Regions from separate parts of the Homo sapiens genome. Here regions 1 and 2 are each linked to region 3. Evidence: fine-mapped expression QTL. A gene starts in region 3. Each other region holds a variant in brackets. All regions are shown on one strand. Distances are between the middles of the regions. Region 1 overlaps CASK (calcium/calmodulin dependent serine protein kinase). Region 2 overlaps CASK (calcium/calmodulin dependent serine protein kinase). Region 3 holds the start of GPR34 (G protein-coupled receptor 34).

Evidence for each region. PIP is the estimated chance that this variant, and not a neighbour inherited with it, causes the effect. A credible set is the group of variants that fine-mapping cannot tell apart.
Region 1: its variant is the best candidate, but not a certain one, in a credible set for the expression of GPR34 in spleen (GTEx, PIP 0.74).
Region 2: its variant is the best candidate, but not a certain one, in a credible set for the expression of GPR34 in tibial nerve (GTEx, PIP 0.73).

What each region holds. Positions count from the first base shown.
Region 1 is chrX:41,744,235-41,748,484 of GRCh38, reverse strand. CASK (calcium/calmodulin dependent serine protein kinase) reads left to right here. Exons shown (of 27, transcript NM_001367721.1): 4 at 2,884-2,961. It also overlaps the pseudogene RPS15AP39. Among named protein-coding and RNA genes, the nearest start is that of GPR82, 22 kb to the right of the region's middle. The variant G/A (reference allele first, on the strand shown) is at 1,894.
Region 2 is chrX:41,586,754-41,591,003 of GRCh38, reverse strand. CASK (calcium/calmodulin dependent serine protein kinase) reads left to right here. Exons shown (of 27, transcript NM_001367721.1): 13 at 1,412-1,489; 14 at 4,017-4,097. Among named protein-coding and RNA genes, the nearest start is that of CASK-AS1, 71 kb to the right of the region's middle. The variant C/A (reference allele first, on the strand shown) is at 1,762.
Region 3 is chrX:41,687,082-41,691,331 of GRCh38, reverse strand. GPR34 (G protein-coupled receptor 34) reads right to left here and starts at 2,359. Exons shown (of 3, transcript NM_001097579.2): 1 at 2,248-2,359; 2 at 1,497-1,589. All of the region lies in intron 5 of CASK (calcium/calmodulin dependent serine protein kinase), which reads left to right.

The sequences.
Region 1 (4,250 bases), 57 kb before region 3:
TGCCATTTTACTAGATCTTTGGGTTGCACATCAAATCTGGGATCTGGGGCTGATCACTCCACACTTGTTTAACCTACCTCAGGTTCACAACAATTTTCCCAGCTCTATGATCATCAGTGATTTCAAATTCACCAATGTAACCATGCTTCATCATCACAGTTAGAAACTGGACAGTAACTTTGGAGCACAACCTAATAAGAACCTGGTGTTTGCCTCTTTTTGGTATTGTTGATGCTCTGGATAGCATCAGCCAGGACATTCATGCACACCATTATGGCAGCATGGAGAGATGGCAGAAAGAGCCTAAATTCTTATTGCTTCATTATGCAATCAGTTTAGCTCTCTCCTTTTCCTAACCCCTCTCTCATCTAAGTTGAATCGTGCTTACCCTCATATATCACAATTACAAAGGAAAACGCCTAAGCAAAACTGATTCCTTCGCTATGAGATGTTTTTTAGTCCTCATAGATCAACTAACCAGCTTAAACTACAGCCAGTTTTTAAAATAGCGTTTCTTTTCTCCCCACAGGACAAAGAAATGAAAAATATTTACTCTCTGTAGTAATCAAGGAAATGCAAATTAAAGCAATCATGAATGACTTTTTTCCTCTTATCTAATTGGCAAAGATGGAAAAAAAATAATCATTATCCTAGTAGAGCAAGGGACACATTCACACATGGTAGTGGGAGTATAAATTGTTAAACTGTTTCTGGTCTTGTGTATGTATCAAAAGTGTTATTGTAGGCCGGGCGCAGTGGCTCATGCCTGTAATCCCAGCACTTTGGGAGGCCAAGGCGGGCGGATCACGAGGTCAGGAGATCGAGACTATCCTGGCTAACACGGTGAAACCCCGTCTCTACTAAAACAAATACAAAAAATTAGCCGGGCGTGGTGGCGGGCGCCTGTAGTGCCAGCTACTTGGGAGGCTGGGGCAGGAGAATGGCATGAACCCAGGAGGCGGAGCTCGCAGTGAGCCGAGATGCACCACTGCACTCCAGCCTGGGCGACAGAGCAAGACTCCGTCTCAAAAAAAAAATGCTATTGTATATACCCCTTGTCCTAGCAACTCAGCTTGTAGGAATTTTACCATACAGATAATCAGAGTTGCTCACCAAGATGCATGATCACGTTCATCCAGGCTTTATTTCTGATGGTGGAAAATGAGTGCTGCCATACTAGGGAGTAGACTAGACCATTATAATAATGTTTATAGTAGACTAGGCAACTATAAACATTATTTTGGAGAAGAATCCTATTTGACATTGGAAAATGTTCCTTAGGTGTGAAATGGAAACTTGGTAAAGTTTTTAGAGCCTGTATAAATGTGAAAGTATTTTCATTCATTTATATAAAACCACACCGAGAATCAAATAATAGAATCAACTGTTCATTAGGTGTCTACAGTGTGTCTTCTGCTGAGTATTAGGTAGGGGTACATTGAAAGTATAAATATATTTTTTCTTGTTCTTTAGGACTTTACACTATCATGGAACTGTTGTAGGGCTTAAAGATGTGCATTTGTTCCTTGCACACCCAGTAGGTATAGCTATAATCAATGGGAAGAGCACAGGACATAGCTAGACAGAGATTTCGATCTTGTCCCTATCACATACTTGTCCACTCACTTAGACAAATTATTTGAAAATGATGCTGACCTCATGGGGTGGTTATAAGTATGAAGGGAGGCATAACAAGGACTGCTTCCTATGATGCCTCATGAATAGGAAGTATGTTAGTTCCTTTACTTTCCCTTCCAGAAGTTTCTATTTCCTCAGTATAATATCTGCAGCAGGTATATTGGGAAACTGAACTACTGAATGAATGAATGAATGAATGAGATACTGGATTTAAAAATATGTTATAAGCCTTAAAGCATTATGAAAATGTTAGCT[G/A]TTAATATTTGCATAGTTTCATTAATATGTATAATATGGCAAAATTCATGTATACATATATAGGTGTATGTGGGGGGAGGGGGAGGTGTTTGTATGTGCTAAATGTTATGGACCATATAGAGTTGTTATAGAATGAAAAGCAAAGGAAGGCATTAATATGGCTGGTAATCATTGAGGGGGCTTCCAGGGAAGGTAGGATTGGAATGAAACCTTGAATTAAGGTAGGTTTTGAAAATGAAAAGCAATATATACAAAAGTAAAAAAGAAAATGGTGTACTCAGGGAGTGATAATAAGACCATTCTGCCTAGAGAGGAAGATTTTCTTGAAACATCAGTGGACAAGGTAGGTAGAAGAGGCAAGGTGTGGCCAAGACAACAAGAGGCCTTACTTATCTAGTAAGAAATAGAAAACTACTGTAAGTTCTAAGACAATATCGTGACATTGCGTTACCAACACATCTATGTGTTACAATATGTTTGTAGCGATGAACTTTGGGAATGGCAGTGTAAACAAAAATAAATTTTATTTTATATATGTCATTGTTTTTTCCTTCCACAGTATATAGCCTGAATTTTCCATTTAGTGGTAATAACAATAGCAAGATTGTTTTTTAAATCCTTGTATTCTACATAACTGAATATTTTTGGAATTTGACTTAAAAATATGCACACAACCCTAGCATTGCTGTTTTCTGATGCTTCTTTTTGTGAAAACCTAAAGAAAAATTATAGTCAATTTTATATACTCAATGTTATTTGATATTACTGTTAGCCTACTCTTCCTGTTTCTTTCCCTGCAGATTTTCAATGTGAAGATGACTGTCATGCCCTTTATAATTTATGTCTATATTTCATTGAAAGAAAGGAGATTTAAATAACATAACCCTTAGCAGTAAATCAACTAATAACTTAGTTACAATGTATTCACTTTCAGTGTTGTCTTCCTGGAATTTCCTCTTTTCTTATGTTCTTTTTCACATTTTTTTACAGTATGGATGGAGCAGATCTGTGTTTTGAAATCGTAAAGCGAGCTGACGCTGGTTTTGTGTACAGTGAAGCTGTAGCCAGGTATGTATTGTATATCTAATCACCAGAGGTCAAGTTGAAAATAAAAAAAGAAAATGACAAAGACATCACATGACAAACTGATAAAGAGCATGCTGCTGCTCTTTGCTACAGGGAACATCTCTGTTTTAGTATGTGTTAGTAGAACCGATAGTCACTGGAAATGCAAAATACCGAACAATGAGTTTATCTATTAACATGGGTTTATAGGGGCCAGGCACGGTGGCTCACGCCTGTAATCCCAGCACTGTGGGAGGCCAAGGTAGACAGATCACAAGGTCAGGAGATCGAGATCATCCTGGCCAACATGGTGAAACTCCTTCTCTACTAAAAATACAAAAATTAGCTGGGCGTGGTGGCATGCACCTGTAGTCCCAGCTACTCGGAAGGCTGACGCAGGAGAATCGTTTGAACCCAGGAGGTGGAGGTTGCAGTGAGCCGAGATTGCGCTATTGCACTCCAGCTTGGGCAACAAGAGCGAAACTCAGTCTCAAAATAAATAAATAAATAAAATGAAAACGTGGGTTTATAATACAGGCTTACATTTTCAGTACTGCTGTCTTTCCCATTTCTGATGATTTTTGTACAGGAAGCGGGGATCTAATAGCTCAGGAACCATGTAGAATTCTACTTGGGTTTTTTTATTTTTGTTTTGGCAAATCTGCCTCATTAGTTCTTCATTTTGCCTTTTAGTGATATCAAATTATCTCACAATAATTAAGGAAAAGTAAAGAACAGTAAAAGGAAGAGAAATAAAAGCACCATTTTTAAAAATATATTTGCTTCAGGCCAGTGTGAGACCTACCAATCAAATGGCAGCTGTTGTTCTAAGTGGAGAAGTTGTTTGTAAAGACCTAATGACTCAAAATAAGAAGGAAATATGGGCCGGGCGCGGTGGCTCATGCCTGTAATCCCAGCACTTTGGGAGGCCGAGGCGGGTAGATCACGAGGTCAGGAGATGGAGACCATCCTGGCTAACACAGTGAAACCCCGTCTCTACTAAAAATACAAAAATTAGCCGGGCGTGGTGGCGGGAGCCTGTAGTCCCAGCTACTCGGGAGGCTGAGGCAGGAGAATGGCATGAACCCGGGAGGCGGAGCTTGCATTGAGCAGAGATCGTGCCATTGCACTCCAGCCTGGGCGACAGAGCGAGACTCCGTCTCAAAAAAAAAAAAAAAAGAAGTAAATATGAAAAATCACAGGAGCCATGCACGTGCTGGGCCACTTGCTTATACATTTAGAGCAACACAGCTTTCTGTTTTGGTTACATTCAATCATAATTACCCACTCCT
Region 2 (4,250 bases), 100 kb after region 3:
CTTTCTTAATTAATACATCATTTAAAAAATTGTCCCTGCTCTATCTTCACATTGCTTTTGTTAGGCATTTTTATGTATGATGTGGCCCAAATATTTATAAGTCATAAAAATTTATCTTGCATTAGTATAAGCAAATCTGACTATAATCTGAAGAATGTTTATAGTCAGTATTTGACTTCTCAACTAGCATTGGTGTACAGAGTAGGTGAAGAAAAAAAAAAGAATAAAACCGACCACGAAAATCCCCACCTGTTTTAGAGAAGTTAGGAAATAAAAGTGTTCACAACAGCCGAGGTCATCTTTAACTTTTCACTTTTCAAAGCAGACTGTTGACTATGAAACACTTTATTTGAGGTAGAAATTAATATTTTAATTGTATTTCTAAAATAATTAAATGTATGTTCTTCAGAAAGCTGAACTTTGGATCATTTAGGTTTGTGGAATTTTAGAAATATATTTAGTTTCTTTCTTTTTTTTTTTTTTTTTTTTTTTTGGAGACGGAATCTCGCTCTGTCGCCCAGGCTGGAGTGCAATGGTGTGATCTCGGCCCACTGCAACCTTCACCTCTCAGGTTCAAGCAATTCTCCTGCCTCAGCCTCCCGAGTAGTTGGGGTTACAGGCGCCCACCACTATGCCCGGCAAATTTTTTTTGTATTTTTAGTAGAGACGGGGTTTTGCCATGTTGGTCAGGCTGTTCTTGAACTCCTGACCTCAGGTGATCCGCCCACCTTGGCCTCCCAAAGTTCTGGCATTATAGGCATGAGCCATCGCTCCCAGCGTATATTTGCTTTCTTTTCAGTGTCTTCTCCACTCTGAATTGGCAGAGTCAAAAGAAAAAAAGTTTATGTCCTTGACTTCCTGCTGAAGGATACCAGCACTGATTCTGTTAATGAACAGCCCTAGTAAAACAACCATAAGCCTTTGTGAGAACATTCCTTCCTAGAAGGAGTTGGGTTTGCCCTTTCCCAAGATTTAGGTTTCTGTGAAAATTCTTCCAGACGTGCCTTGGCCAGAAAGCATTCTTTCATTTTACTCCGTGTAGACGTGCCTTGGCCAGAAAGCATTCTTTCATTTTACTCTGTATTCATGCTATTGAAAGTTGCTTCTGTCAGAGGAAACAAACACTGTGATTGAGGAAATATTGATGAATTTTAAATGACAAGGAAATTGCCACATTGACAGAATTTTGGTCCATCTATTTAAAGATGATTTTTTGAAAAGATATGCATAAGACTCATATTCTGACAAGTTTCACAGAACAATTCAGAGGTTATTACCAAGAGGATCCCACTGAAATCATCAGCCTGCCTTTTTAAAAGAAAAATATTGTTTAGTGAAATAATAAATATGAAGCTCTGATTTTTAGCAAAGAATTGTGAGTGTTTACTGGATTTTCTTCTTTGCTTTTTAGCTGTATGACAAAATTAACACAAAGTCTTCACCACAAATCAGGAATCCTCCAAGCGATGCAGTACAGAGAGCCAAAGAGGTAAGTGATATATTTTATAGAAGTATTTGGCATCATCATATTTGCCACCTTTATTGAAGACATTTCTGTTGCACATTAAGAGGCAGTTTCCCTGGAGTCACAATTTGACTCATTATATTCAGATTTAGTATTTCTAAGTTTATTACTGAACATACAGAAAAGAAAAAAGATCTCTGCAGCAATATTGCCTAGATTTCTAGTTCTGGTTCTGCGATGTAAACTTGAATACATTACCATCAATTTTACTTCTCTTTTTCTGTTTTTTAAAAAAG[C/A]AAGTTATTTTACAACACTTGGTGGAAATAGACATGCTATAAAAATTTGAGTTGCTTTTTGAAGGTGGTAATGTTTGAAAGTTAATTAAATTTCTGTAGCAATTAAATATACTGAGTTCAAAGAAGTCATTTTTGTAAATTGTCAAGGTATGTGGCTATATCTGTCACAAACTTTTAAAAACCTATTTATGATAGAAATACAACATTGCAGAAAGTTTGGAAAATAAAAATAGATCCATAATCTCATCACCCTAACACAGTAGTTTCCATTTTTATATATCGTTTTCTAGTCACTCTCCATTTGCATATAAATTTTTTTATAGTTGTAATCAAAATGTGTCTTTTTTAACCTACCGTTATATAATAAGCATATTTCCATGTTTCTACTTGATCTTTACAAATATAACTTCTAATGACTGCAATATTTTTCTTTGCTGTTATTAAAGTATAACATATTAGCAATTCTCCCATTGTTAGACACATGGGTTTTTTTTTTTTTCATTTTTTGATCATGTCAGTCTTTGTGCAAATAAACATTTTTCTTTTAGAAAAATTATTTCTTATAAAGTGAAATTACTATGTGAAAGACTATGAAGGACATAATCCCTTCCCTACCAGATTTTAGACAGAAAGTCTGTACTGGAAGATGGTGTACGTTCACTGAGAAATGAGACCCATGCAGTGGAGGCTGCCCGGCCTGCCCACTTGGTCAGGACTAGCTTGGAGGGGTTGTCTCTGACTTCACCACCAAGGGCTCATAGAAGGGAATTAAGATATCGCTGATAGAGGCATGAATCACCACCCTGTCTTCACAATACGCAGATAGAAGCAGAGAGACTCTGGGGACAATTCTTTGGCTCAACTGGACAGTGAAAACCTGCTGGTTTCCCCCTAACCCTGCTTAGGTGGAAATACCACACCTCTGTATTTAAAAATAAACTAGGAGAGGAGCAAGGACCCAGAGAGAGTATGTGGTTTTGTCCTCTCATTTCACTAATAGAGAAACTCGGAGCATAAAATACACCAAGGATAATTGGTTTATCATCTTGAAACAATATGAATTAACAGCATAACCAGCACTCTAATGAACAGGGTATTCGGATAAGAAAGCTCTGTCATTTTTGCTTGTTTGTTTGTTCTTCCCTGAGGCAGTAGTTGAGTAGCACAGAACATTCTAGTTATGATGCTAAAATCTAAGGCTCGGGCCATGTGACCTCACAACATCCCCCTCCTGCCCCAGTAGGAAGCTTTTGTATGGTTTTCACAGGTTGAGGTGAGAGTCCTCCTGGATGGATGGTGGTATGATCCTGCCATCCAGTTGTGCCAAAGCAATCCTTTATTGGCTTAATGGTTGGAATTCAGTTGAGTGTAATGCAAACCTCTGAATCCAGCCATATGCAGTTAGAATAGCAGCAGGTGTTTACTCAGAAAAAGAACAGAGGCTTTTTCATGGGTTCATGTCCCATAAATAACTTACACAGGTAAACTCCATCCTGGTGGTAAAGGAGAACTTTTTAAAACAATTTTATTTGAAAACAATCAATTTTACCTGTGCAGAAAAATGTTAATGACTAATTAGTGAAGAAAATTTGAGTGGAAAGAGAAAATAAGGCTTTAAAAAATTGTTCTCTTAGGCTCCCTGGCATTTAACCCTAAGAGCCATTAGCAGAGGCATGACTTTCTCTGTGTGGGCAGATGACTATGGGGAAAAACATTGATCCGGCAGGCATTTTTGCATTTTCTACATTACTTAAAGAAAAATTACTTGTGTATTCTTAATTAAGTAGTCTAATTAATTAGTTCTGTTCTTGAAATCGTTTCTATTTGTGCCTGTGTCATTTTGACATTTCTAAAGGGAATTGGCAGTGCTGTTAATATAAAAGAAAACTTCTTATTAACTTTTTGTCCATATTGATTTTTATGGTGAGTTTGGAAAAGGATATTCAGAGATACTCTTCCGTTAAGTTTCATAAATCTGTAATAAATATATGTTGCAGCCTTGTCATTTTGCTTTATATTTTTCAATAACCTTTTAGGTTATAGTTGACAGACTTTTAGAACAATTTGCTTCATTTTTATTACCATCAATACTGTTCTTCTATGTATTAATAACATTTGAATAAAATGAAAAGTTTTTCAAAATAATTGTTTTGCCTGCCATAAAAATCCACTCATAATTTTTAACTTAAAAGAATTTAACATTTTGTAAATCTTGTGTCATGTTTGTATTATTGTATATCTTGTTTATTTTTTAGGTATTGGAAGAAATTTCATGTTACCCTGAGAATAACGACGCAAAGGAACTAAAGCGTATTTTAACACAACCTCATTTCATGGTAAGTAATAATTAAACTTCCATAGAACTGAAACCTCACTTTCAAAAGAAGTTTTTAAACTACCCTCATAAAATGTAGCCAGCTTCATCTCATGCATTTTTATCCATATCATATGAGACTATTAAGATTACAATACCAGGTAATACCAAATAT
Region 3 (4,250 bases):
ATTATTATAAGGAAGTAAATCCAGAGTTTACAGAATCACAAATCATTCATCAGAATGATTGCCACTACCCACAGAGCATATCTTTTTAAACTTCTAGACCCGATAGCCATAATCAAGATGTCTCCAGAAAGCTGTTAGCACAAAGCACATATCCTGAAACCATTTGCCTCAGCTCTAATCTGCAAATAAAATAAGTAATAGTTGGACAAATCTGTCAGTAAGCATTTCTGGTTTTGCTTTAGTCTTCAGTTTAAAGAGCATAAAGCAAAGCCAGTGCATTTGTTTATGTTATAATAGTGGCCATCATTTAGAACTATGTATTAGACAGCTAGCATACAATTATTGATTCACAAATTGACAGCTGAGCGCCATGGTTCATGCCTGTGATCCCAGCACTTTGGGAGGCTGAAGTGGGAGGATCACTTGAGTTCAGGAGTTCTAGACCAGCCTGGGCAAGATGGTGAAACCCTGTCTCTACAAAAAGTATAAAAATTAGCGGGTATGGTGACGTGCGCCTATAGTCCCAGCTACTCGAGAGGCTAAGGTGGGAGGATCGCTTGAGCCTGGGAAGCAGAGGTTGCAGTGATCCTAGATCACTCCACTGTACTCCAGCCTGGGTGACGGAGTAAGACCTTGTCTCAAAAAAAAAGAACATAAAAAAAAAAAAAATTGGCCGGGAGCAGTGGTTCATGCCTGTAATCCCAGCACTTTGGGAGGCCGAGGCAGGCAAATCACTGGAGTCCAGGAATTCGAGACCAGCCTGGCCAACATAGCGAAACCCTGCCTCTACTAAAAAATACCAAAAAAAAAAAAAAAAATTAGCAGGGCGTGGTGGCACGCACCTGTAGTCCCAGCTACTCCGGAGGCTGAGGCTGGAGAATTGCTTGAACCCGGGAGACAGAGGCTGCAGTGAGCTGTGTTCATGCCACTGTACTCTAGCCTGGGCAACAGAGCGAGAGTCTGTCTCAAAAAAAAATTTTTTTTTTAATTAAAAATCACAATTACATTCTGTTTTAAACTTGGTGACTGTTTTTTTTTCTCCTTTGAAGTTGGTTAGTACATTACAATGTCATTCACTATATAAGGCTATTTACTGATATTTTTTAAACTACCTGTTTGATATGTTAAGAATTGCTTGTGAAGACAAGAAACAAACCACTGTGTTTACATAGGGGATTAATTTCCCAGTGGGCATTACTTGTGACCCATGTGCTATATTGAAGTGGTCACAATAGTTTTGTAATAGTAGATAGTGTTTTTTAAATGTTGTTACTTGGCAAATCCTATTCACAAGTTCAAAAACCTAGTATTAGTGCATTGTACCCCCGCACCACCACCTACTCCTGCAGTTTTTTTTCAACTGGCTCATGTAGGAGTACTGGACCCAGAGGGCAGGACCCAACAGATTCCACTGTGACTCCAGATGAGCAGAAGCTTTTAAAATGCAGTTTGGGTATGTTTGTGAAAATATCACATTGCTATGTTGAAATACATACCTATTTGGTAATAGTCGCAACCTTTCACCGTTTTTAGTTTGACTTGATAATGACTGAATCTATTCAGGGCATGCTTCAAAATTGCATTAACTGCTGTATAAAAAATGAAAATTGAAAACATATTACTTTGGAAATAATACTATTAATAGTGTGTTAGGTTTTGTTACAAATTTAACTGTGTCCCTAGAAACACATTTTAAAAAATTATTATTTGAACTAAAGCATATTTTGCTTTCTCTCTTATCTAATATTCACCTTATTTACTTCTGAAACACCAAACTTAAATGTTATATGGTCTGGTAATACTATAAAATAGTAATAATATAATAAAGAAAAGACAGTAATTTAAAATAGGGAGACAGCATAACTTAAAGTCAATAAGTTATAATTTATAATACATTAGAAATAAAATGTATTGCATATGAAAATAACTTTTAATTCATGCAAGTAGATCTGCAAAATCTTGATGGCAGTATCCAAATGCAGTATCAACAATGTGACTATATTGACAGTAGGAGCTTAAATACCTTGAATGTCTTAAAGTACTTAAAGTAACTAAAAAGACAGTCTCATTTGAAATCAAGGCAGAGGTGTCATTCAAGCAATTTACTCAGTAGTTCTAAAAGCGAATAACTGCTGACATTAGAGTAGCCTTATCACCATGAATCACGTTTCACTTTGAATGTTCAGATAATCAAATTTTAGCTGAAATAAAGGTTCATTTATGTAGCCGAAATCAAGAAATACTCACAGTTCAGGTTCGCCTGAAGTAAAAGGAGCAGAACCCCAAGCTTCCCTAGACACTGAGACTCGTCTTGGTTGTGTCAGCTGGGCTCTTCCATCCGGTCGTGGTGCAATTGGTTGGGGTTCTCTTCTTTTTTATGTTCATATGTGGTGGTAGGGTTTTTTTTTTCCCCCTCTTTTTTTTTTTCTTTTTTCGGTATGACAACTCTCAGATTCCTTTTGAAAATATTAAAAAGCCCTACTACCATGGAACAACTTTAAGCTCAACCAACACTGAACTTTAGGAAATTATTTATATCTTCTTTATGAATACCTTCCAACTTGACAATTGTGGAATGTTTTCCTCCCCCCGCTCAAAATTTAAAAGTTTTATAAATTCTAAGCAGAAATATGTATTTTCTGTGTTTTGTAAGAAATGATACATAATATGCTATATGGACTTTCAAAGCACAAGCACTGAATTTCTGTTTCTTAAGTTTTCATCTGTACATTATTTTAGCATATTTTCATGTATTCCTTTAAGACCTTTGCTAAAACAAACTTGTATTATTAGGACTAGATGAGATTTCTGATGGTGTTCTCCCCTTTTGATCACTATGATAAACTCTCCCGAGCAAATTAAAACATCACCTGTATTTTAAGCGAAATAATGATGGGATTCTGCAGTCTTGGTTTTGATCCTAGTCCAAAATTTAACCACTATCTGTCCATCTATGTAACTGCTGGCCCTGCAGTTTAGTGTTATTTCCCTTTTTTTGTTGTCATTTGAAATGAAGAAGTTAGTTTTTATTCTCCCCATAATTGTTATCCTGCAGCTTGTTTGCACTAAATATTTGACTCATTGGGCTGTATCTAACATTCTAATTATTTCTGGGTACACTCTTCTGAACATTATATTCTCCAGAGCTTTTTGTTTGTTATAAATATGATTTATGGGACAGGATATTTTTAAATTAATAGAATAAAAATGTTTTGTAGCTCTTACTTCCCCTTAGAACCTCTGAGAAGGAAGGTGGTTGCTGTATTAGTCCTGCAATATTGTTGTATTGGCAGGATTTTATTTTATTGTGGTACAATATGTAACATTAAATTTACCATCTTAACTTTTTTTTTTTTTTTTTTTTTTGAGACGGAGTTTCGCTCTTGTTGCCCAGGCGACAAGAGATTGTACAATGGCACAATCTCGGCTCACTGCAGCCTCCACCTCCCAGGTTCAAGCGATTCTCCTGCCTCAGCCTCCCAAGTAGCTGGGATTACAGACATGCACCACCATGCCCGGCTAATTTTGTATTTTTAATAGAGACAGGGTTTTGCCATGTTGGCCAGGCTAGTTTCAAACTCCTGACCTCAGGTGGTCCACCCACCTCAGCCTCCCAAAGTGCTGGGATTACAGGTGTGAGCCATTGCGCCCAGCCCCATCTTAACCATTTTTAAGTATACAATTCAATAGTGTTAAGTATATTCACATTGTTGTGCAACAGTTTCTAGAAGTTTTTCATCGTGCAAAACTAAAACTCTTCACCACTAAACGATTTCTCTCCTCTCCCCCTGCCCTTGACAATCATGATTCTTTATGTTTCATTGATTTGGACTACTTTGGACACTTCATATGAGTGGAATCACACAGTATTTGTCCTTTTGTGACATGTTTATTTCACTTGGTGTCATATCCTCGAGGTTCATCTGCGTTGCAGCATGTTACAGGATTTCCTTCTTTTATCAAACTGCATTATATTCCACTGTATATGCACCACATTTTCCCTATGCATTCATCTGTTGATGGATTTTTGGGTTGCTTCCACCTCTTGACTAATGTGAATAATGCTGCAGTGAACATGAGTATGCATATATCTCTTCAAGATCCTAGCAGGAATTTTTTAATGACTAAATAGGCATTTAACTACGTGCATTCTATTTCATATAATCTAGCATGAATATATTTTTTTCTATATTATTTTCCTACACCTAAGACAACCCTTTTCAAAACACTAATTGTTTTAATCTTCAGTT